Linked DNA regions of Homo sapiens. The protein of the gene in region 3 interacts with the protein of the main gene of each other region in a pairwise test. Each region holds a gene or a part of one and is shown on either strand. Other genes may lie near its edges.

The links.
Region 1: the proteins of ZFYVE21 (region 3) and RTN4 interact in binary tests that used the Homo sapiens proteins (3 or more experiments, as listed by UniProt).
Region 2: the proteins of ZFYVE21 (region 3) and CMTM4 interact in binary tests that used the Homo sapiens proteins (3 or more experiments, as listed by UniProt).
Region 4: the proteins of ZFYVE21 (region 3) and RABAC1 interact in binary tests that used the Homo sapiens proteins (3 or more experiments, as listed by UniProt).

The regions. Positions count from the first base shown.
Region 1 is NC_000002.12:54,971,489-54,977,779, forward strand, and holds the end of RTN4 (reticulon-4), read right to left. Parts: intron 3,277-6,291; coding exon 3,207-3,276; intron 2,380-3,206; coding exon 2,333-2,379; intron 2,134-2,332; coding exon 2,075-2,133; intron 1,711-2,074; coding exon 1,668-1,710; 3' UTR 701-1,667; downstream 1-700. UniProt on the Homo sapiens protein: Required to induce the formation and stabilization of endoplasmic reticulum (ER) tubules. They regulate membrane morphogenesis in the ER by promoting tubular ER production.
Region 2 is NC_000016.10:66,686,371-66,693,898, forward strand, and holds part of CMTM4 (CKLF-like MARVEL transmembrane domain-containing protein 4), read right to left. Parts: intron 1-7,528. UniProt on the Homo sapiens protein: Acts as a backup for CMTM6 to regulate plasma membrane expression of PD-L1/CD274, an immune inhibitory ligand critical for immune tolerance to self and antitumor immunity. May protect PD-L1/CD274 from being polyubiquitinated and targeted for degradation.
Region 3 is NC_000014.9:103,710,758-103,719,023, reverse strand, and holds the start of ZFYVE21 (zinc finger FYVE domain-containing protein 21), read right to left. Parts: upstream 3,215-8,266; 5' UTR 3,183-3,214; coding exon 3,045-3,182; intron 1-3,044. Other genes in the region: DNA repair protein XRCC3, read left to right, coding at 7,937-7,991. UniProt on the Homo sapiens protein: Plays a role in cell adhesion, and thereby in cell motility which requires repeated formation and disassembly of focal adhesions.
Region 4 is NC_000019.10:41,956,322-41,964,569, forward strand, and holds RABAC1 (prenylated Rab acceptor protein 1), read right to left. Parts: upstream 3,001-8,248; 5' UTR 2,972-3,000; coding exon 2,916-2,971; intron 2,628-2,915; coding exon 2,415-2,627; intron 2,063-2,414; coding exon 1,965-2,062; intron 799-1,964; coding exon 697-798; intron 614-696; coding exon 525-613; 3' UTR 362-524; downstream 1-361. UniProt on the Homo sapiens protein: General Rab protein regulator required for vesicle formation from the Golgi complex. May control vesicle docking and fusion by mediating the action of Rab GTPases to the SNARE complexes.

The DNA.
Region 1 (6,291 bases), on a different chromosome or scaffold from region 3:
GAAAAGGTAAAATGAGGCATTTTCAATTGTAGAATAGACTAACATTTACCACAGAAGTGCTTCAGCATTCTAAATGGATTAGATCACTCATTAAGCTATTTTTATATGCCAATTTACTAATGCCTTACATCAATCCACTAATAGGTTGTTGGGCCCGCAGTAGAGTCCCTATGCAGTCCCAATTCTGTTTTCTGTAACCATGTGACTGGTGATGCAGAGTGATAACCATGTCTGCCTATCTTGTACTAGACTCTTCATGCTGATCGGATCTTGCATTGAAATAACCATGTGGAAGAACAATGAATCGATTAATGATGACATGTACAACCATATTTAAAGAGCAATAGTGTCCGTGTGTCATGAAAAACTTATTTGTAAACGTTTATATGGTATGATTTTGATTTTATGTATGTTCATAAATCCTGCACTGTATGATATATGTGAGTTAAAACATTGGTGCATGAATTTATTTTCAAAGTATAAAACACATCACTTAAACATTTTATGTGTCAAATAAAATTTGATTATGTAAACACATTTGTTGACTTTTGTTTCCACAGTAAACAAACAAACAGCTGCACCATCAGCTGAAAAAAACCCTTCTAAAAGCACAAGCTACCATTCGCTGGTTGAAGCAGTTTACCCACTGTGTGCATTTTTAATCTGCTGCAATTTCATGAAATGAAAATACCAAAGCATATTTTAAGTCTATAAGCTTTATTGATACTTTGCTTTTACAGTTCACAATGCATTCCACAGATTTAGTTCAGTACAGCTTAAACCACAATGGTATAAATCTTCATTTTGTAATTAATAATTTCTTGCATAACAATGTTTGATATTTGCAAACAAACAACATTTTTGGAAGCATTAGATTCAGTCCATAGATTCTGTGACAAAATTAACTACAGTCAGTCTGTGCAATGAAATTGATGTTGGAGTTCTATGTGTGTGGCATTTCATGTTGAAAACAGATGGTAGTGCTCCTAGAAATATTTCTTCTTCTAGCTTATGTGCTTTGGAACTACACATGTATAACCAATGACTGACTCTGAAATATCAAGCACTGTGGGGTGGCTGGAAGGTAAAGGTCTAAGCTTTGTGAAACACTATACATATATAATCTATATTTACTTATATTGGCAATTAATATAACAGTAAAAGTCACAATACACCTAGAACATACCAGAAAAGCAAGCTTTGTCATTCCTGCTTTACCGGTATGATCTCGTCTAAACAAACATTTCATTTCAGAAAATCTGCATCAATCTACACGGACCATACACAGTGCACAAACTGAAAAGGGCTTTTTTTTTTTTTTTTCTAGCTCCACCATCTCTGCAACTTGCCAAGATGCGGCAAGACTATCTGCAACAAAGTAAAATATACAGGTTTTTTATTCCACCAGTGCCTCAGATAGATAGGAAAAAGATATGATTACGGTTTAAATCCATACATAGCAGCTTACAATACTTAAGATGATGAACACATGGCAGTCAAGACAGGTAATTTTTCCTCACAACAGTGCATGGCTAAAAATAAAGATCTAACAACGATCTGTGAAACTGCACTGCAACGTCAAGGTTCGTTCTTCCCTGACCCTCCCCCGTATAATCAAATGAATATCCCCTTTAAAGATGAACTCCTACTAATTATTTTGGGCGTTTTCATTCAGCTTTGCGCTTCAATCCAGGGATTTTTGCTTGGATTCTGAAAATGAAAAAGTCAATGTAAATATCAGTTTTGTTTGCTGCTGCTTAAAATACCATCTTCCAAGAACTACTTGTATGTTATTCAGCTAATACAATAAATGAAATCCTTAAAGCTGCCTAATTCTAAGCTATAATTTTGCCACCTTGGCCTCATGAATTAGATTTAAACAAAGCCTTAAACACATAATAAACCCAGAAACGAATGGTCCAAATGTTAGAAAAACAATCTTTTGGCAACTCTGAAGTCACACTTAAGGTCTGATAGAGATTTGTTACTCATTATGCCTGCAATATGAAAATACTGTTCTCACAATCCAGCACACCTTATCCTAGTAAAAACACTGCAGATTTTAAATACTTACTTAGCCATAGCATCTTTAACATTCTTATTTGCAAGTCCTAGATAATGATCTATCTGTGCCTGAAAGAGAGGTATAAAGGAATTATTACCGTTGCTAAAGAATCTTATTAACCACTACTATGTGTCAAGCTAAAGGCTTAAGAAACCATCACACTTCTCATTTTTGTAAGACATTGAAAATGGGCACTAATACATCCGTAAATCCCATGTAATAGAGTGAGTGCTCTATTCTGAAGTCAGCAGTTAGTTAGGAAATTACCTGATGCCGTTCATAAATAACAGGAACACTGAAGAGTGAAATGAGAGCTGAAAAGGGAAATATACAACTTTTCAAAAAGAACGGAATGATTTGGGAGGAATAAACACTCAAAAAACTATTAAACTGGCAACTCAAGATAACCAAGCAGTGTTCCTAATGAATGAATAAAAACATAAGGATCTCTGGATGCATCTGCTGTTGAGGAGCCACTCCAGAGGAATGAATGAACTGTGTGAGGCTGCAGTTATTAGAGCTAGGAACCATTTCTAGCTTCAAATCATATCACAGTGAGATTTCATAAAATAAAGGTATCCCTGGTTAGATTTATGACTGCACCATCATATAAAGCCACCCTTTATCTGGTTTATCACTGTTTGTTAGTAGGAGCTGTCTTCAGCAACTAAGGTAGCATTTCAATAAACCGGGAAGCAGTATCACCAACTTATTTAAAGAGAATACAACCTCAAACTTATTTTGAGATGGAGTTTCACTCTTGTTGCCCAACCTGGAGTGCAATGGCACGATCTCCGCTCACTGCAACCTCTGCCTCTTGGGCTCAAGTGATTCTCCTGCCTCAGCCTCCGGAGTAGCTGGGATTACAGGCGTGCGCCACCACGCCCAGCTAATTTTTTCTATTTTTAGTAGAAATGGGGTTTCACCATGTTAGCCAGGCTGGTCTCGAACTCCTGGCCCCAGGTGATCCGCCCACCTTGGCCTCCCAAAGTGCTGGGATTACAGGCATGAGCTACCGCGCCCGGCCCACATTTTCATCCCCTACTTTTCATACAATGAGAATATTCTCCACTAAAATGTCTAAGCTCCTGGCACACAATCTTTCCAGCAATTTTTCATCCCAATGGCTTTGTAGACTTACCCAAAATCAGTAGTGTCAGACCATTAAACAAGGCACCAACATAGGTAAATACCCACATCAACACTGCAAACTATAAGAAAATAACATTAGCCCATTATAAACAAAATTCAAGTAAAGTTTCTTAATTATGCTTTCAAAAGCATCCCATCTAAATGCCTACCTACAAAAGGCATACAACTTGAAGACTGGGTAAAGTACCATGAGCAGTTCACTATTAAGTCACGAGTCTCAATTATGAATTTCAAAATCCTAAAATAATTAATAGATTTGACCCATTTTCTCTGGACTACACTACCAAGTAGTTGATTCTGCTGAGATCAGACAATATACCAAGGGTGCATCTTACCCCTCCAGCCCTAACAACATTTACCTTTTAAATGGGAAGACTATAAAGGTGTTATGAGAATTGTCTATTAGAATTGATTTCAAAGTATGAACTAGTTGAGTGCTTGAAGATATATGAGCTGAATAATTCAGACATTAATATCTCAGCTGATAAGCAATAATTGGGCAAAGAGTACTTATCAGGGAAATTACGTTTCAGGTACCAAAAATATCACCTCTAGCCTTTGAAGGATCAGGCACAAAGTCAGTCTGAATTTTGTTAAACATTGGTCATCATCAGTTCCTTTGCTTTCTAATTCAAGGCCTTCATGTGTATGTCTGGCAATCACTTTGACCTACTTAGTAGGTAACAAACATGATGCCACCAGCTACAGTGATTATTTAGGCTTATGTAACACTATAAATGAAAAGGGGAGTAGTAGAGCACCCCCATTATCTAAAGCGGGGATCAGCAAACTTTCTCTGTGAAGAGCCAGACAGTAGAATTTTAGGTTTTATGGGCCACATAGGGTTTGTGTCTCATATTATTCTGTGTCGTTGTCATAACCCTTTAAAAATGTACACCACCCACTCTTAGCTCCCACACTATACAAAAACAGGCCGTGGCCCAAACAAGCAGTGGTTTGCTAACCCTTGATCTAAAGCATATATCTTTCTCCATGTATTAAACGAACTCTGACTGAATGCTTACTGACCATTAATTAAGCAGTCAAACATTAGTAAGCATATTTATTACAGCTTAGGAAGACACTTTGGATGACTCTACCAAGCAACAGTTCTACAAATAGCAACACTCTGGTCACCCTAACTGAATTTAACTAATGTTCAAGTCAGTAAATATCAGGCATTCTTAATATCTGTCAATTGAAAAAAAATTTTTTTAAGCTGCCGTATTCTTAGCAATTGCTATTGGAACCCCTGGTAGAAAGGTTTGAAGGATGACTTCAGTTAGTAAGGCTTTTCTCTCACAGTTTTATAGACTCCTATTGCTGAAGCTAAATATAACTTTTGCACTTGAGCAAGTTTACTATAGAGTAAGAGAGTTATTTTTATCCATCACTATCCACAAGTCTAAAGGGAAAAGTGTTGACCTTCCATATTTTAGAAGAAATTACTCTAGCAACGAAGATGCCCTTAACATGACAGAAGATAGTAACAAACACAAGCTAAAATAACTCCTCATTTGGTCATTACAGTCACTGACAAGGCTTCACTCCAAGTCCACAGGGGAAAAGCCCAAGACTTCACACCTGAGCCACTGTAGGGGCTCAAATGTCACTTGCCTCTTTGAGAACACTTCCTAAAAGCCAGGCTATCCCAAGACAAAGAGAAGAACACAGGGAGGTCTCAAATGTCCTTAGGGCCAGGCAGGTGACATACATGTATGTGAGAGGCTGGGAGAGAACTGAGGCACACAGTGATATGCATTCTTCCTCTCAAAGGGGCACTTACAACCCTGCTCCATACGCTGTGGCCATGCAAATATTCCAGGCCAGTGTTGCCAGAAATGTACACTTTTGTGTGCTATCATATAATTTTTAAATGTTGCAGCTATGTTGAGAAAACTGAATACTTCGGCGGCCCAAAACAGAAATAGTGGTTAAGTGTATTCAGGGAACACACCACCAGGAGAGAAAGGGGTGGCAGCAAGAACTAACCTAGAGAGTAACCATTATTAATGGGAATCCACCACAAATGATGGATTTGTAACATGGCAGGAATAAGGTCAATAAACACTTTAAAGAAGCAAACAGGCTGCTCTCATTTTGGACTTAACAAATTCTACACGATTCCATGGCAAATACTTTGCAACATTATAGCCAATACTTATTAACTGAAGAGGTCAAAGCTTATCTCTCCATTGCACAGTATCGAGACTGGAGGAAGGAGGCCTAAAATGTAATGAAGATCTAACAAATACTTACTGAAAAGGGGCAAGGGCCACATCTGGTTTATCTTTCTTCCAGGGCAATAAGAGAATTAAATTCACTGTGTATAACACACCTGATTAAAGAGCTCTGCAGATTTGTGATGTTTCAATTTGGGGGAAGGGGTATCTTTAAGGCAAACGGTGGGAGAGTGCTTAGTAAGATCTCAGAAATTACTCTGGCAGTTCTGACCATTTCAAAACTTTCCTGCACTCTCAAACTCTAAACTCTACTTGCCCTTCTGTGTCTCCTTCAGATTCATTCATTAGTTGGTAGTTTGGACTCTCTCTATATCCCCAGCCCACTTCCTTCTAATTTTTCTGAGAGCTCAAGAAACCTGAAAGGAAGCTGTCAAAATGTGAATGTTAACAGCTGCCTATGAGCCTGAGAGCTAGATTTTAGTGTTCTTCTGGGTCAGCTATTTCTGGAGCTCAGGCCGTTTTTTTTTTTTTCTTCCTCTCACTTTCAGATTTAAGATTGTGTTCTGGAACATTATAGTTGCGCCTCAATTACAGAAAAGTAAGAACCTCTGCTGAAAATACCTGGTCTTAGTCCCTAAAAAAGTAAAATTATTAGACAGCTTTTTGGGATTTGAGGTTTCAAAAGACAGGAACCTGCTAAGAAGGCTCAGTCAGACTCAATTAGCCCAAAAGCTGAGCCCAGTAGGCATTGTCATATGCTTTTCTTTCATAATTGCGGGTGGGAAGCGAGGGGAGGGAGGATTTATAGTTTAATGCCACAACTTTTTAAAACAGTGATTTTTGCCATACTATTTGACTAGGAAAATGATCGTTGCTCACTCTATAAATACT
Region 2 (7,528 bases), on a different chromosome or scaffold from region 3:
GGCCAACATGGGAAACCCTATCTCTACAAAAAATACAAAAATTAGCCAGGCGCCTGTAATCCCAGCTACTCAGGAGGCGGAGGCAGGAGAATTGCTTGAACCCAGGAGGTGGAGGTTGCAGTGAGCCAAGATTGCGCCACTGCACTCCAGCCTGGGTGACAGTCAGACTCTGTCTCAAAAAAAAAAAAAAAAAAAAAGTTCCTCCAAAGTTGTGGAGAAAGAATTAATTTAGCCCTGTGGTCCAGGAGGAGCCATTAGGACTTACAGAGGTCACCATTTCCCAGTTGTCTGTACTTGTGGGTAAGCATACTAGAAACCTGGAATAAACTGAGACCTTCAGATATGCTTTGGGAGGAAATGTCAACCAAGTCTGTATTTTTTTTTTAAATGTTCAGAAATGTGGTGGTCTTGTCCTTTGATGTAGTAAAAGCACTCCTTGAAATTTAACCAAAAATAATAATTCAAAAGAAGAATCCAGGCTACACTCATGAGGACATTTATTGACGCATCTTCCTAATAGCAAAAAAACTAGAAAACATAATCACCAGACTTTGCCACAGGGGATCATATGTAGCCTTTGGAAAGGAAAAAATTTCCAAGTCCTTTTCATTTGAGTCTGTCATAATACGATGATTATTTTTCTAATTTCTAATTTTCTTTAATGTTACAACATTTTCACTAACAAATGAGGGTAAATTCCTTTCAAATGGAAGAAGTTTTCCATTAGCATCAACAAATTTATTAAGCACCCACTATTGTGCAGAATGCTTTTTTTTTTTTTTTTTTTACAGAAAAGTGCATTTTAAAACAATTTAAGCTTCAAGTTTGTCCAAGTGGTCTGTATTATCTAAATCATTCTTCCCAAGGGCCTCCAAATTACAAAGAAAGTCATGAAAAGTTAAAGATTACAGTCAGTATATGAGCTTTAAGGCTATACTAAGGTAAAGCTAGTAACATCTACTATTTTAGTAATTTTTGAATAGAAGGTACTTGCATGTGGTACAAAATTCAAGGGCTGGGAGCAGTGGCTCATGCCTGTAAACCTTGGACTTTGGGAGCTGAAGGCAAGAGGATCGCTTGAGCCCAGGAGTTTGTGGCCAGCCTAGGCAACATAGCGAGACCGTCTCAAAAATAAAATAAAATAAAATAAAATACAAAAGGTACAAACAGTTATACAGCAGAAAATGTCTCCCTGACACCCTGGCCCTCGGCCACCCAGCTCCCCAACTTGTATCATTCCAGAGATATTCTGTATCACTATCAGTCTGTTGTCTGTTCTGGTTGCTATAACCAAATACCGTAAAAAGGGTAATTTTTTTTTTTTTTTTTTTTTTTGAGACGGAGTCTCGCTCTGTCGCCCAGGCTGGAGTGCAGTGGCGCAATCTTGGCTCACTGCAAGCTCCGCCTCCTGGGTTCACGCTATTCTCCTGCCTCAGCCTCCTGAGTAGCTGGGACTACAGGCGCCTGCCACCACACCCGGCTAATTTTTTATATTTTTCATTGAGACCGGGTTTCACCGTGTTAGCCAGGATGGTCTTGATCTCCTGACCTTGTGATCTGCCCGCCTCGGCCTCCCAGAGTGCTGGGATTACAGGTGTAAGCCACCGCGCCTGGCCAAAATGGGTAATTTATAAATAGAAATTTATTGCTCATAGTTCTGGAGGCTGGAAACTCCAAGATCCAGGTGCCAGCAGATTCAGTATCTGAGTGAGGGCCCATTCTTCACAGACGGCACTTTCTATGTGTCCTCACATGGCAGAATGAGCAAGGACACTCCCTTCAAACTCTTTTAAAAGGGCACTAATCCCATTCATGAGGGCTGAGCCCTCATGACTTAATTACTTCCCAAAAGGCTCCACCTCTTAATACTATCACACTGGGTGTTAGGTTCCAACATCTGAATTTTGGGGGAATGCCAACATTCAGACCATAGCAACCTCCAACAGGCTTTGATGACGTGGTGTCTTGAGACGCTGAGCTAGGGAGCATGGTGGGCTCACCAGCACTGTAATACTACCATTATCCCCAACTTACAATCCCCAAGTGAGAGACCTGCAGGAGATCTGCTTGTGGCCTGAGTGAACAAGTAGCTTGCCAAAAGTCTCATGGCCGATAAGAGATACGAAGTCCATCATACTCTCAGAAACACTCCCCTCAACACACACACACACACACACACACATTCTACCCTAAACAAGGGTGACTTCATGTCATTGTTCTCTCTCCCTGGAACATACCTCCATAAACCATCACTAGCCCTTTGCCTGGCTAATATAAAGTTTAGAATCAGCATTCTTCTATCTACAAAAAAACCTTGCTAGGATTTTGGGATCGTATTAAACCTATAGATCATTTGTGGAGAACTAATATTTTAACTATATTGAGTTTTCCAATCCTAATGAACACAGAATGCCTGTCTACTTATTTTGGTCATCTTTGATTTCTTACTTCAGTGTTTTGTAGTTTTCAGTGAGCAGATTCTATACATGTTTTGTGAGATTTATATCTAAGAATTTCATTCTTTTGAGTGCTGTTATAACTGATATTGGTTTTTTTGTTTTAATTTCCAATGATTTATTGCTAGGATATAAAAATACTATTGGTTATCGTGTGTTGACCTTATATCCTGTAACCTTGCTAACTCACTTATTAGTTCTAGGAGGTTTTTTATAGATTCCCATGTGATTATCTACCTAATCATGCCATATGCGAATAGGGACAGTTTTATTTATTTCTGATCTGTACGTCTCCTATTAATTTTTTTGCAACGGCTAGGACTTCCAGTATGATCTTGAATATGAGTGGTAACAGTAAACATCATTGCCTGTTTCCCATCATGGGGGAAAGCATTCATTCTTTCCCCACTGTAACATTATATATTACAGTATAATGTTAGCTGTAGATTTTTTGTAGATGCCCTTTTTCAGGTTGAAGAAGTTCCTTTCTCTTCCAAGTTTGCTGACAGCATTTATTATGGAAAAGTACTGAATTTTGTCAAAAGTTTTTTTTTTCTGCATCAAATGATAGAATCATGTGGCTTTGGGTTTTGTTTTGTTTTTGAGAAACGGTCTCACTCTGTTGCCCAGGCTGGAGTGTAGTGGCACGATCGCGGCTCACCGCAGCCTTGACCTCCTGGGCTCAAGCAATTCTCCCACCTTAGCCTACAGCTGGGACTACAGGCATGCACAACCATGTCATGCTAATTTTTGTATTTTTTGTAGAGAAGGGGATTCACCATGTTGCCCAGGCTGGTCTTGAACTCCTGGGCTCAAGCAATCCACCTGCCTCGGCCTCCCAAAGTGCTGGGACTACAGACATAAGCCACTGTGCCTGGCCTGTTATTTTAAGTTATTAATATGGTGTACACCTATAACATTTACTTTCAAAAACTGCACCAACCTTTTTGTTCCTGGGATAAATCAAATTGGTTTGGTGTATTATTCTTTCTCCATTATGCTGGGTTTTATTTTCTATATGGTATTTTGTTGAGGATTTCTGTGTCTGTGTTCATATAAGGAATATTGGTCTGTAGTATCATTTTCTTGAACTGTCTTTGTGTGGTTTTGTAAAACACATGTACGCTCTACATTTAACAACTTCTTTTGAGATCGTGGATTATAATTTCACTATTTTTAATCATCAAAAAAACTTAAGAGTAATTATAACTTTGCTTTTCTGCCAGAATTTATTTGACTCCAAGTCCTTGATCAGGAAGACAACTCCTAAAGATAACAATCTTCCTAAAGGAAAATGGGACTGTTTTACAAGGAGCCACAGAATGGTGGATCTGAGAATCCAACATAGAGAAACCCACTGCTTCATCTACCATTATGCGCTTGTATATGCATGACTTCAGGGATAAATGGGAGCCAGAAGTACAAAGGAATCTTCAGTAGTAAACAAAACGCAGAACCCTTCACGGTTTGACCAGGGTCATTGTGTGTCTGCCTGGTCATTTGACCAGCTCTTACGAATCAGGAACCCAGCTGAACCTCAGTTGAACCAGCCCCTCCAACAGAACTGAGGGGATTTGGGGCTGATAAGCTCAGTGCTATGTCTACAGCCAGTCATTTCTCAAAGTTGCAGCTTTGTAAATGTAGCTATATTTGTGTTGCATATGATTTCTATAATGTATTACTGCCCCACCCCTGCACATCCTCCAGAGAACAGTAACCAGCCAGGGATTGTGCTGACTGGCTTGAGATTTAAAAAACTAACAAGGTTTCCACCAAATAAAAGAGATGCCATTACCCACCCCTGAAGTGCAAATACTCACATTTGTTTTTGAGTTACGTAAGAAAGCAACTATCAAACATTAACCTCTTAATTCTTACAATTCCTAAAATGGTCAATTAGTCATTACTACCCATACTGTACAACTGAGGAACCCAGATTCGATGAGATTAAGAGACATCAAAATCAGCTGAGCTAAAATTTGCATTTAAACATTTCCAGGCCAGGCGCAGTGGCTCACACCTGTAATCCCAGCACTTTGGGAGACCAAAACAGCAGGATTGCTTGAGCTCAGGAGTTCGAGATTAGCCTCTAGTTTGAGGCAACATAGCAAGACCTCGTCTCTACAAAAATAAAAAAAAAAATAGCAGGGCATAGTGGCACATGCCTGTAGTCCTGGCTATTCAGGAGGCTGAGGCAGGAGGCTCCCTTGAGCCCAGAAGTTCGAGGTTACAGTGAGCTATGATCATGCCACTGCATTCCAGCCTGCAGTGACAGAACAAAAATCTGTCTTAAAAAAAAAATTCCTATTACCCATCTTTTGTTATTAAAAAGTCCTATACAAATACATTGTCAGAAAGTCATCTAGGCATGGGAAGGGCTCAAGAAAGGGATGTGGATCAGGTGCGGTGGCTCACGCCTGTAATCCCAGTTTGCGACCAACCTGGGCAACACAGTCTCATTAGACTGTCTTTATTCATTTAAAAAAAAAATTCACACAAGGAGGAAGAAGATAATTTAAATCAGTTGTTTAACCACACTAGACATTCTCCCCAACTAAGAGATACGTACAGGTTTCATTTTGAAAAGATATAGGCGGAGGTAAGTGACTCATGCCTGTAATCTCAGCACTTTGGGAAGCCGAAGAGGAAGGATTGCTTGAGCTCACGAGTTTGAAACCAACCTGGGCAACACAGGGAGACCCTATCTCTACAAAAAATTTAAAAATTAGCTAGGCATAGTGGCATACACCTGTAGTCCCAGCTAGTTGGAGGGCTGAGGTGGAAGGATCACCTGAGCCCAGGAGGTCGAGGCTGCAGTAACCTATGATTGTACCACTGCACTCCAGCCTGGGCACAGAGCAGGACCTTGTCTCAAAAAGAAAAAGAAAAGATAAAATCTATGCAACTGCACCGTTTAATTTTTTCATAATGTTTCAGATTAGCTTTAGTATCCAATCACATTCCATTAAAAATACCAATTTAACTTAAATCATAAGGAATTAAACTATCTTTAATTCAAACACATAATTATGTTTTTGGTGATATTTTCACACAGTTTCTTTAGAGACAGGCATTGTTAGCACTATGACAGCTAACATTTATTGCACATCAGTTAGATACCTAATACGGTAGGTACTAACTTACACATATTATTTCATTTTCTTAATCCTTTGAGGGAGGTATTGGCAGTCTCATTTTACCGAAAAATCTCAGCTTTAAGGTTGACTATTTATCGAAAGCTGGTTGCTAGCACCTGTGTGAGGTTTTGTTGTTTTTTTTTTTGAGATGGAGTCTTGCTCTGTCACTCAGGCTGGAATGCAAGGGCACAATCTCAGCTCACTGCAACCTCTGCCTCCCAGGTTCAAGCGCTTCTCCTGCCTCAGCCTCTGGAGTATCTGGGATTACAGGCACTCGCTATATGCCTGGCTAATTTTTTGTATTTTTGTAGAGATGTGGTTTCACCATGGTGGCCAGGCTAGTCTTGAACTCCTGACCTCAAGTGATCCAGCCACCTCGGACTCCCAAAGTGCTGGCATTACAGGCGTGAGCCCGGCCTGTTGCAAGGTTAACACTGAAAGGATATAGAAAGGTAAGTCTCAAACTTTAATGTACACGTGGATCACCTGGGGAATCTTGTTTAAATGCAGATGACTCAGAAGTTCTGGGGTAAGGCCACTGATTCTGCATTTCTAACAAGCCCTTAGGTGATGGCAATGCTGCTGGCCTAAGGCCAAACTTGGAATAGCAAGGATCTACAGGTTGCAATAGGCCACAAAAAACACCACCAAAAAGTCTACAGCCCAACGCAGGGGCTCACGCCTGTAACCCCAACACTTTGGGAGACCAAGATGGGCAGATCACTTGAGGTCAGGAGTTCAAGACCAGCCTGGCCAACATGGGGAAACCCCATCTCTACTAAAAAATAGAAAACTTAGCCGGGCGTGCTAGTGGGCGCCTGTAATCCCAGCTACCTGGGAGGCTGAGGCAGGAGAATCACTTGAACCTGGGAGGTGGAGGCTGCAGTGAGCCAAGATCTTGCCACTGCACTGCAGCCTGGGTGACAGAGCAAGACTCCATCTCAAAAAAAAAAAAAAATCTAAAAAAACTAAATTTATGGCCAGTCGCAGTAGCTCACGCCTATAATCCCAGCACTTTGGGAGACTGAGGCGGGTGGATCACCTAACGTCAGAAGTTTGAGACCAGCCTAGCCAACATGACGAAACCCCGTCTCCACTAAAAATACAAAAATTAGCCAGGCATGGTGGCAGGCGCCAGTAATCCCAGCTACTCGGGAGGCTGAGGCTGGAGAATTGCTTGAACCCAGGAGGCGGAGATTGCAGTTAGCTGAGATGGTGCCATTGCACTCCATCCTGGGCATCAAGAACAAAAGTCTAACACAAAGAAAAAAAAAACATACACACCACTAAATTTATTTTTAGACATGGGATCTTGCTACGTTGCCCAAGCTGGAGCACAGTGGCTACTCCGAGGCACCATAATAGCTCCCTGTGACCTTGAACTCCTAGGCTCAAGCAGTCCCCCCACCTCAGCTTCCTGATTTTTAAAAGTCAAATTTTTCTCCAAACCGCAGAGTTAGAACTTACTCATATTTCTTGATGGATTCTGAGTTTTGTAACATCTCAGAAGTATCTTCATAATGACTTCTTATTTTCTTTTCAGTTTAAATTTAGAGTCCAATTTCTTGGAGTTTTGTGGGATTTTCATCAAGGCTGGGAAGCCAACTACACCAAAACCATTTGAAGTTGCCATACCCTTCAAGCAGGTCCCTTTCCTTTACTCACCCACATATAACCTCTCAGAGTTTAAGTTCTAGAGATTAACAAACAACAGAGTTAGGCGAGATTCTGGGGGCTAGGCCCAAAAGTTCTTCCGGATGAAAAGTACAAATCTAGGCCAGGCGTGGTGGCTCACGTCTGTAATCCAGGCACATTGGGAGGCCGAGGCGGGCAGATGACCTGAGCTCAGGAGTTCGAGACCAGCCTGGGCAACATAGTGAAACCCCGTCTCTACCAAAAATACAAAAAATTAGCTGGGCATGGTGGTGTGCGTCT
Region 3 (8,266 bases):
CTGCAAAAGAAAAGCCCTGTCCGGCCTGGCCTGTGAGACCCTCGCAGAACTCAGGGTCCCCTGTTCTCCCCGCTGCACAGCTCCAGACGCCTCTAGCAACAGTCCTCACTTCAGATCTCTCCTCATCCGAGTCCAGGCTCGTGATCAGACGCGCACGTGCTCTCTCCTTCCTGGCTCTGAATCTAGAGTATCCATCAAAGTGTCAACCCGCCAGCATGGAGCTGCGGTCATTCTTCTGCCAGCACCACGGATGGGAGGTGGGAGGGGTGCACAGCGGCAAGGATTTTAAGGATAAAACTCAGGATCTCAGCTGCTTGTGACAAGCCCAGATGGCTGCACGCCCGGACCGCCCACCCCCAAGCCCACTGCCTTGCGTCAGTGTCGGATATTTGATGGCAGAGTCAGACAAGCCCCAGAGATCATCTGAAGCTTCCTTCACACCCCCAAAGCACCTCTATCCAAAGTGGTGTCGCACGAAGCTTTACACGCCGCCTCTGCCTCCCCTGCCCCACAGGTTCCTGAGGAGGCACAGACTGGAGAAACGATTCTCAACTGGTTCTGCGTCAGAGCCTTGAGAATCTGAGAGCTGCAGGCCACCTCTCGGAGAAAGGTGCATGTGTGCACATGCTCCCCAGGGGGTTTTGCAGCATTTTAAAGGGATAACCCTCATGGGCCCAAACTGATAAACCAGCCCGGTCAGGCAGCTGGTATTCGGGAGACGGGCACTGGGCTGGATTCAGACTCCCCTGGCTAAGAACAGAGCTGGAATGAAAATGGACCAACACGTTTACAGATATGACGATGATGCCGATCGGCACACGGCCACCAAGCCAAGGACAATGTTACCCACCTGCCAAGTTCTACCAAATTCTCCTCTCCCCATTCCAAACCACCTCAAATAAACCTATTTCCCACAACTGGTTATCTGCACATTTGAGTCACCTCCCGACAATCACCTTAGCGGCCCCAAGCACGCAGCCAGCACAGTGTAGCTCAGTGTCCCCTTCAGCATCACCACATGCCAGGCGACTGTTACCGTACATGTCCCCTCGAGCTATTGCACCTAAAGCTGGACTTTATTCCAAATCTTCCAGCCCTTACTGCCCCGTTCTAAGTTCCTCCAGAACACTGTCTTTGGTCGTTTCTGGCCTGTAAGACCATGCTCCAATACAATTCACAACGCAAAACTCAGAGACAAAGTCCATCTTATTAGAATGGTTTCTCTGTCCCCCAAGCCCACCCAATGCTAGGACCTCCCTCAGCTGCTCAGATCCCAGTTAATCATCCAAACATGGTGGGGGGCTCTGGAGGGGTATCCTGCCACCACGCCAGCGTGGGAATGAATCTTCTCTTCCACGAGGGGTGCCACCTTGACTCAAGTGTTTCAACTCCACTCAGTCGGAAGTCACCGCGGGACTGCCACACAGTGCCTCAGCAGAGGCCACAAAGAAAGGCAGGGAAAAATGCTAAACAATTCAGCTGATACCAGAAGGGCTCTGGAAGAGAGAATGAAGGAGGGGAACACAGTGGTTCACTATAAAACAGAACCGTAAGATCAGTGCATGTGTACAGCAGGGAGAAAGAAATTGTGCTTTGGTGGAAACCTCTGCCTCATCTTGGCCACACTTTCTCACGTGCTCCTTACGGTTCATACAGACGTAGAGTATTTCTGTGCTATTAAGAGTTCGTTACACCATAAATACAATTTTCACGTGTCAACTTAAAAGTAAATTTTAAAAAAGATGAAGGAGGATGATTGGCGGAAAGTGTCTAAAAAGACTCCTCATGGTGGCGATACTGGGGAGAGGTGGGCAGCACTGGTCTCAACTCTCCAGGACACGCTCAGTGACCGGTGATGGCTCCGTACACTGTAGATGCCAGAGACACTTCCCCAGAGTCACTCGAATTCCGTCCTGTCCCCGAGGCTCTGTGGCCGCTCACCCCCCACCAGGCCTCCAACCAAGCTTCAATGAACCCAGTCAATTAGTGCTACTTTGACTTCTTGAACCTAGTTCCAACGTCTGCTTAGTTCTATCACTGAGGGAATTAAACGAATCTGTAACACGTGTTAAGTATGAAAGTCATATTACAAAAATTCTTTTTCTCCCCCAATTTTTTTTTTATCGTGGTAAAATCCACAGAACAGAAACTGGACACACCTGTTAGCGCACAGCCAGTGGGATTAAATGCACTCGGGGCCTTCCCAGTTGGCCAAGGGGCTGGTGTGAGGCAAAGGCACCTCCGATCAGGTCACAGGGAACCCCACGGGAGGCCCAGCGGATGGCCTGGCTCAGGGACCCCACGCCCACGCCCCAATGTCTGCAGGAGTGGCCTGGGCAACTCCTGCCGTGTCTGGGCCCATGGGAAACGGGTGCAAATCTGCGGTCTCCTTCAAACTGTCCAGTGGGCGACTGCGACCTCGCTTCCGAGGTGGAGGGTGGTATAGACGAAGGGAAACGGGGGGCAGCCTGGCCCGCAGACTGGGTCCTGGCCCTCCTTCCGAGCAGGAGGTGGCTTCGGAACCGGCCACCCGCCCGCGGCACCGACGCCTCCCCCGGTTCCCGGGAGGGACCCCTGCGGGGCCGCCAGCTCCAGCGCTTCCGCGGACAGCACGCGCCCTCCCCACCGAGCCTGCGAGGAAGGCGCTCCGCCTTCCACTTTCTCGGGAGCGAGCCCCAGCTCTCGGGACGCAGTCCACACGCGCTAGCCCAGCACGAACCGGCCTCGGGCAGGGCCGCACCCACCCCCGGGACCAGCCCGCGCCCCGCACCCCGCCTCCCGGCGCCCGCCCTGGACAGGTGCCTCCTGCCCTCCCGGGACCCCCGCACCGGGACACCGCGCGCCTCCCGCCCTCCCCGCGGGCGTAGGAGCCTGAGGCGGCGGCCCGGGGACGCGGCCAACCTGGGAGAGAGCGGGGGCGGGGGCCGGCTGGGGAAGGGGCCGCCCGGAGGCGGAGGGGTCGTCGCGGGAGCCTGGAAGCCCGCGGGGCCGGGCCGGGGCGGCGGGGCGGGTCGGAGGCGCTGGCCGGGGCGACGGCCACCCACCTCCTTGTCCGGGACCCACTGCGGCTCCTCCAGGCCGAACGGGCTTCCGAAGGCGCGGTGTTCGGGCACCATGCGCAGGCCGCTCGGGGAGCGCACCAGCTTCTTGGCGTCGCGGCGCGCGGACACCTCGGAGGACATGACGCCGCCTCAGCCTCTCGGCCAGCGGCCCCGCACCCGGCCCCTCGCCCAGCCCGGGGCACCGCCCGCCCCGCCCCGGTCCGCGCGCGGCTGACAGCGCCGGCGTCCAATCGCCAAGCCCGCCACGGAGCGCGGACTAATCGGAGCTTGAACTCCGCCCCATCGCTGCCCTCTCCAATCCGTGTAAGGGCACCGCCCCTGCAACCCTGAGGTCGATCACCAATCGGCGGCGAGGGCTGGCCCGGGTACGCTCCGCCCCTCTCAGGGAGATTGAGACTTTGGATTGGTTAGTTAGTCAGTCACGTTAGCGCCGCTTCGTCTCTGATTGGTGTAGCCCACTCAGGGTGCTAGGCGCCTATTGGAGGAGAAGGCCGAGAGGAGCAGGACGGCGGGAAGAGGAGTGCGGAACCCGCGGGAGGTGAGGCCCGCCGAGCCGGGCTGCGAGCCGGGCTGCGAGCCGGGCGGCAGCGGGGTCGGAGGTCGTGGGCGGCAGCGGGCGTGAGGGGTGAGGCAGGGTCAAGGGGCGGGGGCGGCCGCGGGTCTCCATTGCCCGAGCCTGTGGGAGCAGGCGGGCCTGGGGCTGCAGCACTCACCCCGGGAGCCCCGCCGCAGCTCGGGTAGCGTTCAGGCACCTCGCCGGGGCCGGGCCGCGTGCGTTCGGAGCGGGGAAGGCGGTCTCCGGGGCCCCCGGTGCGCGCGGGGAGGCGTCCGCTCAGGGGAGGCCGAGGTGGGCCCGCGGCTGCGCCCCCGGCCTTCGATGCCTTCGCTCGTCCGCCTGGGACCGCGCTGGCTTCGCATCGAAGTGGGAGAGGTCTGAACAGTTATTTTAATACTTTGATTTGGAAAGAAAATCCTTTAGGCCGGGCGCGGTGGCTCACGCCTGTAATCCGAGCACTTTGGGAGGCCGAGGCGGGCGGATCACGAGGTCAGGAGTTCAAGACCAGCCTGGCCAACATGGTGAAACCCCGTCTCTACTAAAAATACAAAAATTAGCTGGGTGTGGTGGCACGTGCCTGTAATCCCAGCTGCTTGGGAGGCTGAGGCAGGAGAATTGTTTGAACCAGGACCCGGGAGGCGGAGGTTGCAGTGAGCCGAGATCACATTACTGCACTCCAGCCTGGGCTACAGAAAAAGACTCCATCTCAGAAAGCACACAAAAAAAAGAAGAAAATGTTTGTTCATCCTGCCTTTAATTCCTTATTACAAGGCGTGAATTTTTATTGTTTTTTTTGAGACAGTCTGGCTCTGTCATCCGGGGTGGAGTGCAGTGGCGTCTTCACAGCTAGGCACAACCTCGACCTCCCAGGCTCTCAAGTAGCTGGGACCGCAAGCGCCACTACACTGGCCAGCTATTTTTCTTTTTTTTTTTTTTTTTCGGTAGAGAGTAGGTCTTGCTGTGTTGCCCAGGCTGGTCTTGAACTCCTGGGCTCAGGCGACCTTGGCCGCCTTGGCCTCCCACGGTGCTGGGATGACAGGCATCAGCAGTGTTGAAGCCTGTGAGGTGGGGTCCCTGTGGCTGACTCTGCCCTCTCCTGGGGCCATTGGCAGTGCAGGGGTCCTTGTGTGTGGAGGAAATAAGGAGATGATCAAAGTATGATTCCACGAATCACACGGTTTATTGTCAAAGAAGATTTGTTCTCGGGTTCACAGTGCTCAGAGGGGAGGAGAGGGGAGGAGGTGAAGACACCTGGCAGGGAAGCAGGGCCTCCATGGATGGGGTGCATTCACGGCAGGGAGGTGAGTGGCAGAACGGCCAGGGTCCGGTTGCTCTGCTGGGATGGAGCGGGCCCCTGGAGAGTGAGATCTGGTGAGAGTTCGAGGTTTGCCTTGGTAGCAGTGGAGAGCGTGAGAGCGGGAGCTCTCTGAGAAGCTGGGACCGAGGTCCAGCTCCCAGGCCAGCAGCGTATAGCTTGCCTCAAAGCATCTGCACAACCTTCAAGCTGATGTCTGTTTTTGCAGTCCAGCAGTCAGGGTCAGTAACTCACATAAGGGAGTGTCTGACAAGGTTTAAGTGGCATTCCCAAGGTTGCGGAGTTCACTCAAGTCCTCACATATGTGGTCTGATAAGACATCACACTCTTGCAGGGGGGTCAGGTCACCCCAAAACATCAGACTATGTAAGTGCTGTGAATCACTTCAAAGCTACACAGCAGGTCCCAGGGCCCAAGGCAGAGGAGTGAGTCCACCTCGGAAGGCTCAGAGCAGCTCCAGGCAGTAACCACGGCATTTCCAGAGTCTGGTGTGTGAGCCTAACAGCTCTGGTGTGACCGTCCGTACTCACCTAGCAGCACGTGACATCAGCTCTCCCCCTGAAGTCATTGCTCAGCTCGGGTGCTGCAGGAAGACATACAGGTCTGTCTTGGGCCAGCCCCTTGCCTGCTGTGGGCTGCTCCCTGTGTGTGGCCTTCACCCCGGTGTAGAGAGATGGGCTGGTCACACCCCTGCCCCTCACAGCGGCGAGAGGACAGAGGCATGTGCCGGGCTGTCTGTGGAGCTCCCAGGCCAGTGTCTGGGATGCGGCAGGTGCTTGGTGTTAAAGGGAAAATATTCCAGGATATCTGTGAAAGCACGTTAGGCAGAGACCAGGCTTTCATTCAGAACCTTTGAGAGATGTGGGAACCACCACACTGCGGTCTTGCAGTGGGAGAGAGGCTGGGCTCAGCTCTGAACAGGCCATGGGCTGGTGGCGGCTTACAGCTCCAGAGCTGGGCAGGGGCAGAGGATGGAAGGTTGCTAAGAGGAACCCCCAGGGGCGAAGGGGATGCAGGTTCAACTGACCTGCCAGATCAGGCCGCCCGGGGGACAGTGGAAGATGAGGCGCCTAATCAGCTGTCAAGGGTGATGGGACACGGGAGGAGGTCGTCACTAAACAGACTTTGAGCCAGGCCTGTTAAACCAAGTTCTCAGCAGGATGTGCACAGAGGGCCCAGGAGGAGCCTCAGGAGCCGGACTGCCGTTGGCCAACCGGTGAGTCTGTTATCCGTCAGTGGACACTCTGCTTCCAGGTGCCTTGGCCTCGGCCCGCGTCCTGAAGGCGGGAGACGTTGCAGCCACGTGCTGGCCTTCCCGGTGCTCCTGCCAGCGTCCCGCTGCTTGACACAGTCCAAGTTTTGTATCCAGACCCAGCCTGGGACAGCAGCCTCCCGACAGCCCCCAGGCCCAGCCTGTCTGTGACAGTCACGCCTGCTCAGGGAACCATCCCTCCGTGCAGATCTGGGCTGTGTTTTGGGTGGTACCTCGGGTGTGGGGTCCCCTACCAGGTGCGAGGTTCATACTCCCCAGGCTGCCTCCTGTCCTCAGGGCTTGGAGAGTCCCATGTTCTGAAAATGACCTCTTTTCGAGCCGGGCAAGGCCGCATCTCCTTTGGCAGTGTAGTGTCTTCCCTGGAGGTGGCATTCCTTTTTGATTTGCCTTCTGTGCTTGGGAACCTCACTTCCTCACTCTGGCCAGCTCTGCCAGCAGTTTGGAGCTGGTTCAGCGCCCCACCGCCCTGCCTTGGCCTGCGCCCGGCCCTCCAGGGTGGCTTCTCGCCAGTTCCTGTCAGGCCTGCCTGGGCAACCAGGCCTGGGCACCTCCCTGTCCCTTGCTCAGAAAACCCACAGGCTGTGGGGGCCCGGGAGCCAAGCCTGGTGCGCGGGCAGGAAACGCATCCTGGAGCACCAGCTTCCCTGCCCTGCCCGCCTCACGGGGTGCCTGGGGGCGTGCCTCAGCCTGCTGCTCCTGTAGTCTGTTCCTGTCTCCCTGAGCAGGCTGAACATGGGCATACGAGTGACCAGCGTGATCGTGTCCAGGCCAGTGCCGCATTCTGTGTGGTCCAAGGGAAAACCTTCTCCAAGTCCACGGCCCGCCCTTTCCTCTGCTGGGTTACGGCCAAGGGCGCCAGGCCTCACTGGAGGACATGGATCCTGGACCCGGCCCTCGAGGCTGCTGCCTTCCAGTTTCCCCATGTCCTGGACACTCTTGGTCTCACCATTTGGGAGGCCGACAGGGGATGCAGAGTGGCCTGTTGGAAAGGCCTTATGTGACCCCAGGCTGAGTCCCTGAGCAGCCTGCTGAGGCCGGAGGGGAGAAGAGCTGAGCTTCTCCCTTGCTGGGCCAGGCTCGGGCTGTGGAATGGCTGCCAGCTCCCTTCCTGGGAGAGGCTGGGTGGGGTCCACAGCACCTTCCTCCCGTCCCACAGGAAGCTGTCTTCTGCTGTTGGCTGCTGGGGGCGACTGATGTTTGGATCCCTGAGCACCCTGCCAATCCCAGACTCACCTTCCCACTCTTTCCAGAGTCCCCAGGGAGACACTTAAGGGAAATTAAACTGCAGAGTGCAAGAGATGCCTCAGTCAAGTCAGCCAAAAACACGCGGGTCATCCCCAAGCCCCAGAGAGGTGAGTCGGGCAGGGCACTCAACTGCTGCAGGAGGATGGTCTTATTTCTAGCACTTTCCACAGGAGGTAAATGTGGTGGGTTTGGGGGGTTTTTCAAATGCATCAGTGTCTGGAATGGGTTCTAAGCTGCTAAATAATTCTTAGAGGTAAATGACAGACATGTTGCCCTAGATGTAGCTAGACAGCCTTCCCTCTACAGTGAAGTCTCCTCCACCCTCAGTGACAGAGCCCCGATGACACGGACACCTCGGCTGCTGTCACTTCCCTGGTTCGGGCCTCCCACAGGCTTTGAATTGAAGGCGAGTGCCTCAGAATTTGCATCCATTGTTCTGTCTTTCCTGGGAAGTTATTCATCCTGGTGGCCAGCCCACCGACAAAATGGATTTGGATCTACTGGACCTGAATCCCAGAATTATTGCTGCAATTAAGAAAGGTACATTTATTTCTATTTACATAAAGGGTGTGGGTGGGTGTGTGCAGTTTATATAAGGCAGGTTAACAAAACGCTGGCTGGCTAAGCCTTCCTTCCTTTGCCTACCCTGATTATTAAACCGAGGGCGGGATGTACTATGGGATTTTCAGGTGTGTGTGTGTGTGTGTGTGTGTGTGTGTTCTTAACTACATGGATTTCTTTCAGTTACTTTTATTTTTATCAAAGTAATACATGCATATTGTCTAAAAGGTAAAATGGAGCCACATAAAGTCTTT
Region 4 (8,248 bases), on a different chromosome or scaffold from region 3:
CTCCATGCACCTTTCCTTTTGGCTGACTTGGCTCCATACCCTTTGATGAGAGTAAATCAGAGCTGTGAGTGCAATTGCATACTGAGTCCCCAGTCCCAGAGAACCATCAAACCTGGGGTGCTCTCTGATTCCTGAGTCCTAAAGAACCATCAAACCTGGGGGTGGTCTCGGGGACCCCCGGCACACTGTCCTTCTCAACTCTTTTCTCCTCCTGAACACTCACCACCATTGGGCATCCCATAATATTTTACCTGTTTACCTTGTCATCGTCTTGCCCACACCCCAGGTTCCACCCCAACCCTGCTCTGTGCAGTATTCCCAGCTCCACCCATAGAGACCCACAGAAGATGCTGGGGGAATATTTCCTGAATGACACCCATAACAGCTTTATTTTCAAAGGCGGGATCCCTCCCCGGGCTTGTGATGGGACGGCGCTGTGGGCCCGAGCAGCAGAGCCGTGCAGGACAGGCATGGGCAGGGGTGGGGCAGCTGGCCCGGGAGGCCGGCAGGTCCCAGAAGACACCTCACACGGGTTCCATCTGCAGCTCCTCCCCGTCCACAGCCTCAATCTGGTGGAAGGCAGCGTGGGAGCCGATGACCACCAGGGTGGCTCCTGCAGGAAAGCCGGCAGCTCAGGGCCACACTCCTGCACCTGGCTCCCACCATCCACCCCAGCTGCTCAGACCCTGTACTCACCCAGCACCCAGAAGACGGCCGAGCCCGCACCAGCCAGCCAGAAGAAGGGGAAGGAGATGCCTCCAGCCAGAGCATACTGATGCGCTGGGCTCACCTCTCGGCCTGGGGGCAGATGGCATTGGGGTGCTGTTCCGACTCTCCATGCCCTCTCCCAGAGTAACCCCTGCTGCCCCCCAACAATCCGTACAAGCTCCAGGTTCTCGGGATCGAATCCAAACTCCTCATGCCAAGGCCCTCCAGGTCCTGGGGTCACCCTGTTCCCCTGCTGTCCCCACTGCCCTCCAGAACACAGCACACCGTCCTCGCCTGCCTCAGCCCCACCCTCTGCCCTCTGCCCCACATCCTCCAGGAAGTTCCTGGGATCCCGGCTTCCTGCTCCCTAGACTAGGGCTCTCCTGCTGCAACCCTCGCGCAGACCAGGGTCTCAAACTGGTGGCCCAAGGGCCAAATCTGACCTGTGGATGTGTTTTTTGAGCTGTTTTGCAAGGATGTGATTTGTGGCTGGCAAAGTGAACGATTTCACATAAAAATACCAACTTCAGGCTTCTCATAGAAGTCTCAGGGATGGGGTCTACATGCTCTGGTGACGGTGATCAGCTGAAGCCAAGTCGTGCCTGTGCTTCAGGCACTCCCTCCACCCCAGCCCATCAAGCACATAACTTGCAGGCCCCTGAAGAGCCTGGCCTTCAGGTCTACCTAACTGTCCAATCCCAACTCCCTGACCCCACTCCAAACCTTGATTTTCCCCTGGGGGGAATTTCCCCTGGCATTTTGTTTTCCCAGTGGTCCTTGGTACTACTAGTCTGGGAACCACATGAAACATACTCCTCGGCTTCCCTCTCTAAGTTCCAAGTTCTTTCTGGTCACACCCCAGAAAGCAGGAAAAGAAACGGGAACAGATCTAGGCCAGTGTAAGGTGGCCACCTGGTGTCCAGTGTGGGCACCTGCAGCTGATGTTGGCCGCAGAGAGCGGCAAGGGGAGGAGAGAGAGGGGAGGAGTCATGTGGTTTGAAAAGGAGTAGGTTTAAGGCACAGCAGCCAGGTGGATCCTGGGTTTGAGGAATAGCAATTTGAGGGGGCTGAGACTCGATGGAAGGATCGGTTGTGTCTGAGATTTTAAGGGATCAGGTTTGGGGGATCTAGTGTACATCTAGGCTTGGGCGGACTTGGGTTTTGAAGGACTTGGATTTGGGGTCTGAGGTCTGTCTGCATTCCAAAAGACCAAGATTTGAGGGACCAAGGATTCATCTGGGCAGGGGGTTTCTCACCAAAGAGCACAAGCTTGGACTCCAAGGTGCGCAGATAGAGAATGTAACAGGCGCCGAAAAAGACAGCCAGAGCCACCAGCAACATAGGGGACGTCACCCTGGAGGAGGAGTGCAGGGAGGCAGCGGTTAGACAGCTGGGGCTGGGCCAGCCCGACGGCCCTGGCCTTCTCCACCGGCGGGCGGCAAGCTACATCCTGGAGACCAGGGAGGGCCAGGTGACATTTAGTCACACTGCATCCTGGCCAGGGTGATGGTGGGGTAGGGGACCTGGCCCTTTGGTGACAAGGTAGTCTAGCAGAGCCAATCCTTGGGGGCGGGGCCTGGGCGGTGAGAAGAGGGCCCTGGGCGGTGAGAGGAGGGACCGGGCGGTGAAGGGCGGGGCCTGAGCGGCGAGAGGAGGGGTCCAGCCGGTCGGGGCTAGTGCGGGTGCGGGGCCCGGGAGGCACTCACACACAGTACAGGATGAGGCCCAGGAACACGAACACATAGTTGCTCTGGTAGTACTCCACGTTGCGTACGAGGCGCTGGCACAGCTCTCCCAGGTTGCGGGGCCGTGAGAAGCGCTGCTGGTCCACGAAGGTGCTCCAGGGCCGGATGGTCGCGCGGCGCCGCTCCAGCCACTCCCGGCCTGCACCGGAGGGAATCAGCTTCGGCAGCAGGGTCCTGCGGGGGGTGGGGCCGGGTCAGTGGTGGACCGGGATGGAGCCCCAGACCCCCGCAAAAGAAGGGGACTAAGGGTGCCTGGACTCCCTCCCGGGACCCCAGATTCCTGTACAGCAGGCAGGGAGGGGACTAGGGGCCCAGACTCCAGGGTCCCATTAGAGGAGACCGGGGCCAACACTTCTGCGGCTCGGGGCTGGGACTCCAGGCTCTCGAGGGAGGAGGGAGGAGGGGGCCGGGGGCCCGGACTCCCGGGTCTCTGGTCCGAGGGCCTAGAGCCAGCTCGCTCACGTGCCGCTCAGCCCTTCCGCCTCGGCATCTTTCTGCTGGTCCTTCTGCGCTGCCATGTCTGCGTCGTGAGGGGTAGAGCTGCTGTAACCAGCCCGGTACCCTGAAGACCCCGCCGGCCCCGCCCGACGCCGGCCCCACCCAGCGGAGTCGACGTGGCGCAGCCCCGGAGCAGCTGGGGACTGTAGTTCTGCCGCCGAGTATTGTGGGAGTTGTAGTCCTGACGGTGACTAAGAGGATGGGCGCTATGATGGCGGTCTGACTCGCAAAACACCTTGGGAGATATAATCCCAGAAAGTGACGGCGCGCGCCTCTGGGTATTATAGGAGTTGTAGTTTCAGGAGGGTGCATGTGGGCTGTCAGGAGCGAGGGCGTTATGGGAACTCTAACGGCAGAAGCGGGCGTTGTGTACTCTCCCAGGGAAGGCACAATGGGGACCGTGCAGAGCTGTCCTTCTGACTCTAGAGGGCATAAAAAAACACCTGGAGGGCTTGCTAAAACAGATTCCTGGGCCCTAGCCCAGATGTTTTCATTCAGCAAGTCTGGGGTGGAGCCCATAATTTCCATTTCTGAGTTCCCAGGTGATGCTGATGCCCCTGGTCCATGGACTACATTTTGAGTAGAAAGATTTAGATAATTTGTGGGAATTGATTCCTTCCTCAAGAGATTGAGGCTAGTGAGGGGGCCATGGTTGCTGGAGGGGTATCTGAGGTTGCCCCCTGCCCCACCTTGTGGAGTCCCAAAGATGAATGAGTTGGGGCTAGGGACACCTCCGACCCCGCCACACACACCTTTGGAGAGAAGGGAGTGAAGTTGGGAAAGACAAAAGGTTGAGAAGTTTTGTGGGCTTTTTTGAAATGGAGTCTCGCTCTTGTTGCCCAGGCTGGAGTGCAATGGCGCAATCTCGGCTCACTGCAACCTCTGCCTCCTGGGTTCAAGCGATTCTCCTGCCTCAGCCTCCAGAGTAGCTGGGATTACAGGCGCCCGCCACCACGCCCAGCTAATTTTTGTATTTTTTTAGTAGAGACGGGGTTTCACCATGTTGGCCAGGCTGGTCTCGTACTCCTGACCTCGTGATCTTCCTGTCTCAGCCTCTCAAAGTGCTGGGATTACAGGCGTGAGCCATTGTGCCTGGCCCACAGGGCTGGAATTCTAATTGAATTCTAATGGGGTGAACCAGAACAGGGCCTCAAGAAATGTGTGTGGAAGTATAGGGAAGCCTGGGCTCCCTTAAGCAGACTGGGATCCTAATTTTCCAAAGCAGCTGGGTGGGGCTGGAAGGAAAATATCTATATGGGATAACCAGGTGACCTTTTTTTTTTTGAAAATTTTTTTAAGTAGATAAGGGATTTTGCTGTGTTGGCCCAGTAGGTCTCAAACTCCTGGACTCAAGCGATCCTTCTGCCTGGCCTTCCCAAGTATTGGGATTACAGGTGTGAGCCACCATGCCCAGGTTCAAGTGACTTTTTTTTTTTTTTGAGACGGAGTCTCACTCTGTCGCCAGGGCTGGAGTGCAGTGGCACAATCTTGGCTCACTGCAACCTCCACCTCCTCCTGGGTTCAAGCGATTCTCCTGCCTCAGCCTCCCGAGTAGCTGGGATTACAGGCGCCCGCCACTATGCCCAGCTAATTTTTTGTATTTTTAGTAAAGATGGGGTTTCACCATGTTGGCCAGGCTGGTCTCGAACTCCTGACTTTGTGATTTGCCCGCCTCGGCCTCCCAAAGTGCTGGGATTACAGGTGTGAGCCACTGCGCCTGGCCCCAAGTGACTCTTTTAGGCCCAGCTCTTGTCTTCCAAGATCTACAGCAGTTTAGGGTTTGTGCTTTGAGGCCTGCTGGAAGGTGTTCCCAGGAGGTGGGAGGAAGATGGCCCTGTCTGAGGGGCTGGTGGCGCAATAGGCAGGGAAGCCCTTTGCAAGGGCCCCACACTGAAGATGGAAGAGTTACACTTTGAAGATCAGATTGGCTAGTTACTGTTTATTTCCTCTTTGTCACCCCCAGGCTTTTAGTGGAATCAGGTTTCCTTTTTTTTTTTTTTTTTTTTTGAGATGGAGTTTCACTCTGTTGCTCAGGCTGGAGTACAGTGGCACAATGTCTACTCACTGCAACCTCCGCCTCTCGGGTTCAAGCGATTCTCCTGCCTCAGCCTCCTGAGTAGCTGGGATTACAGGTGTGCACCACCATGCCCAGCTAATTTGTGTATTTTTAATAGAGACGGGGTTTCACCATGTTGGTCAGGCTGGTCTCAAACTCTGACCTCGTGATCTGCCCACCTCAGCCTCCCAAAGTGCTGGGATTACAGGCGTGACCCATCACACCTGGCCTGGAATCAGGTTTTCTAAATAGGATTCAAACTTGAAAATCAAAGGAGGACTGCGGGGCTGGGCGTGGTCCTGTAATCCCAGCACTTATGGGAGGCTCAGGAGGGTGGATCACTTGAGGTCAGGAGTTCAACACCAGCCTGGCCAACATGGCAAAAGCCCATCTCTACTAAAAAAAAAAATACACATGCCTGTAATCCCAGCTACTCGGGAGGCTGAGGCAGGAGAATCACTTGAACCCAGGAGGCGGAGGTTGCAGTGAGCCAAGAGTGTGCTATCGCACTCCAGCCTGGGCGACAGAATGAGACCCTGTCTCAGAAAAAAACAAAACAAAACAAAACAGAAAACACCAAAGGAGGAGTGCAATAGCACAATTAGCCCCGAGCAGGAATAGGGGAGCAGCATCTGAATTCAAAGGGCCAAAGCAGCAGAGGTAGCCCTTGGAAGAACCTCCACCGAAAGACAGAGCTTGGGGAATAGAATTGGGACAGAGCTCCAGCTGCCTCTTTGGTGGCAGGCCGTAGGAGATTCAGGATGGACTTTTGTTATGAGAGCTGTTGGGTTTCCTTATAGGAACTGAATGAAAGCAATTTCATTCCAAAACCCACTGGTCTTTGTTCTGAGCAGAGAACATAGAGGCAGAGGCCTGGAGGTGTCGAACAGCGCAGGCCATGGCAAGAGACGGGGAGGGGGACAGTGGAGTCTGAGGGGCAAGGACATTGCAGGAGGGGTCCTAGGAGTGGGAGGGTGGGGGGGGACTTTGAATAAGGGAATTTCAGGAGATGGGACCTGGACACAGGGGTAATGTGGGAGAGGAGGGCCTGAGGCAGAGACATCATGAGATGGTGAGAAATGGGGTCCCTGAGGGAAGGGGCCTTTGGCAGATGGGCCCTGAATTAGGGGGGTAGGGGGTTGGTGTGCTGGGAGATGAGGGGGCACCTGAGAAGATTGTGAGTCCCAGGCCAGGTGTGGCTCACGCCTGTAATCTCAGCACTTTGGGAGGCCAAGATGGGCGGATCACTTAAGGCCAGGAGTTCGAGACCAGCCTGCCCAACATGGTGAAACCCCATCTTTACTAAACATACAAAAAAAAATTAGCTCGGCGTGATGGTGCACGCCTGTAATCCCAGCTACTCAGGAGGCTGAGTCAAGAGAATCGCTTGAACCCAGGAGGCAGAGGTTGCAGTGAGCTGAGACTGTGCCACTGTACGAGACCCTATCTCAAAAAAAAAAAAAAAAAAAAGAAAAAGATGGGTGCCTCCAGCCTGAGGACTCCTCCCTCCCTCCTGGGATCCCCAAGGAAGCGGTGCTGGGAAAGCAGGAAGACCTTAGCACATTCAGCCAGAAATGTGGGTCACTGTCCCTGCTGTGTGACCTCAAGGAAAGCCCTCCCGTCTCTGGGCCTCAGTCTCCCCACCTGTCTATGGGAGCGTCTCTTCCCCTGCACCAGAAAAATTAAACAGTATGTGTGGGTTTCCTAGGAGAGGTCTGGGCTCATGTAGCCCCTACCAGGACCAGGCTGTACTCTGGGGTCACCAGGGGTGCCCAGCGCACATGGCCCCTGCCCTCCAACTGCCTTTCCCCCTCAGATTCGGGAGTTTCTCCCTCATCCATTGTCTTGTGCAGTGGGTGTGTACATGCACTTGCACACTCACCCACTCACACTCACTCTCAGCATCCTGGCCACAGACACTGGCATTGGGAGGCAGGCAGGCCCAGGCCTGGCCCCAGCCCCTCCTCTGACTTGCCTCCCTGAGCTGTGTTAGGAAGGCTGCCTCGAGGGAAATGGATTCACTGCCCCACCAAGGTGGCAAAAATGAAAAGGACTGACAACTCCCAGTGGAGGAAGGATGTGGAGCAGCTGCTGCTTCCTTACACTGTTGGATGCAGAATGGCACTCGAACTTTGGAAAGGGTCTGGCAACGTCCATGAAAGCTAAACATGGTCTATCCCATGAACCAGCAATTCCACTCCCAGGCACGCGTGTACCCAACAGAGTGCACATCTGTCATTAAAAGACACAACTAGAGGGCTGGGCGCGGTGGCTCAGGCCTGTAATCCCAGCACTTTGGGAGGCCGAGGTGGGCAGATCACAAGGTCAGGAGTTCGAGACCAACCTGACCAACATGGTGAAACCCCGTCTGTACTAAAAACACAAAAATTAGCTGGGCGTGGTGGTGCACGCCTGTAGTCCCAGCTACTCGGGAGGCTGAGGCAGAGGAATCACTTGAACCCGGGAGGTGGAGATTGCAGTGAGCCAAGATCGTGCCAGTGCACTCCAGCCTGGTGACAGAGCGAGACTCCGTCTTAAAAAAAAAAAAAAAAAAGAAAGGCCGGGCGCGGTGGCTCACGCCTGTAATCCCAGCACTTTGGGAGGCCGAGGCGGGTGGATCACGAGGTCAGGAGATTGAGACCATCCTGGCTAACACGGTGAAACCTCGTCTCTACTAAACATACAAAAAATTAGCCGGGCGTAGCGGCGGGCGCCTGTAGTCCCAGCTACTCGGGAGGCTGAGGCAGGAGAATGGTGTCAACCCGGGAGGCGGAGCTTGCAGTGAGCCGAGATCGCACCACTGCATTCTAGCCTGGGCGACAGAGCGAGACTCCGTCTCAAAAAAAAAAAAAAAAAAAAAGACATAACTAGAGGGCTGGGTGCAGTGGCTCGTGCCTGTAATCTCAGCACTTTAGGAGGCTGAGGTGGGTGGATCACTTTTTTTTTGTTGTTGTTGAGATGGAGTTTCACTCTTGTTGCCCAGGCTGGAGTGCAACGGCTCGATCTCAGCTCACTGGAACCTCCGCCTCCCGGGTTCAAGCAATTCTCCTGCCCCAGCCTCCCAAGTAGCTGGGATTAGAGGAGTGTGCCACCATGCCCGGATAATTTTGTATTTTTAGTAGAGATGGGGGTTTCTCCATGTTGGTCAGGCTGGTCTCGAACTCCCGACCTCAGGTGATCTGCCTGCCTCAGCCTCCCAAAGTGCTGGGATTATAGGCGTGAGCCACCGTGCCTGTTTTTT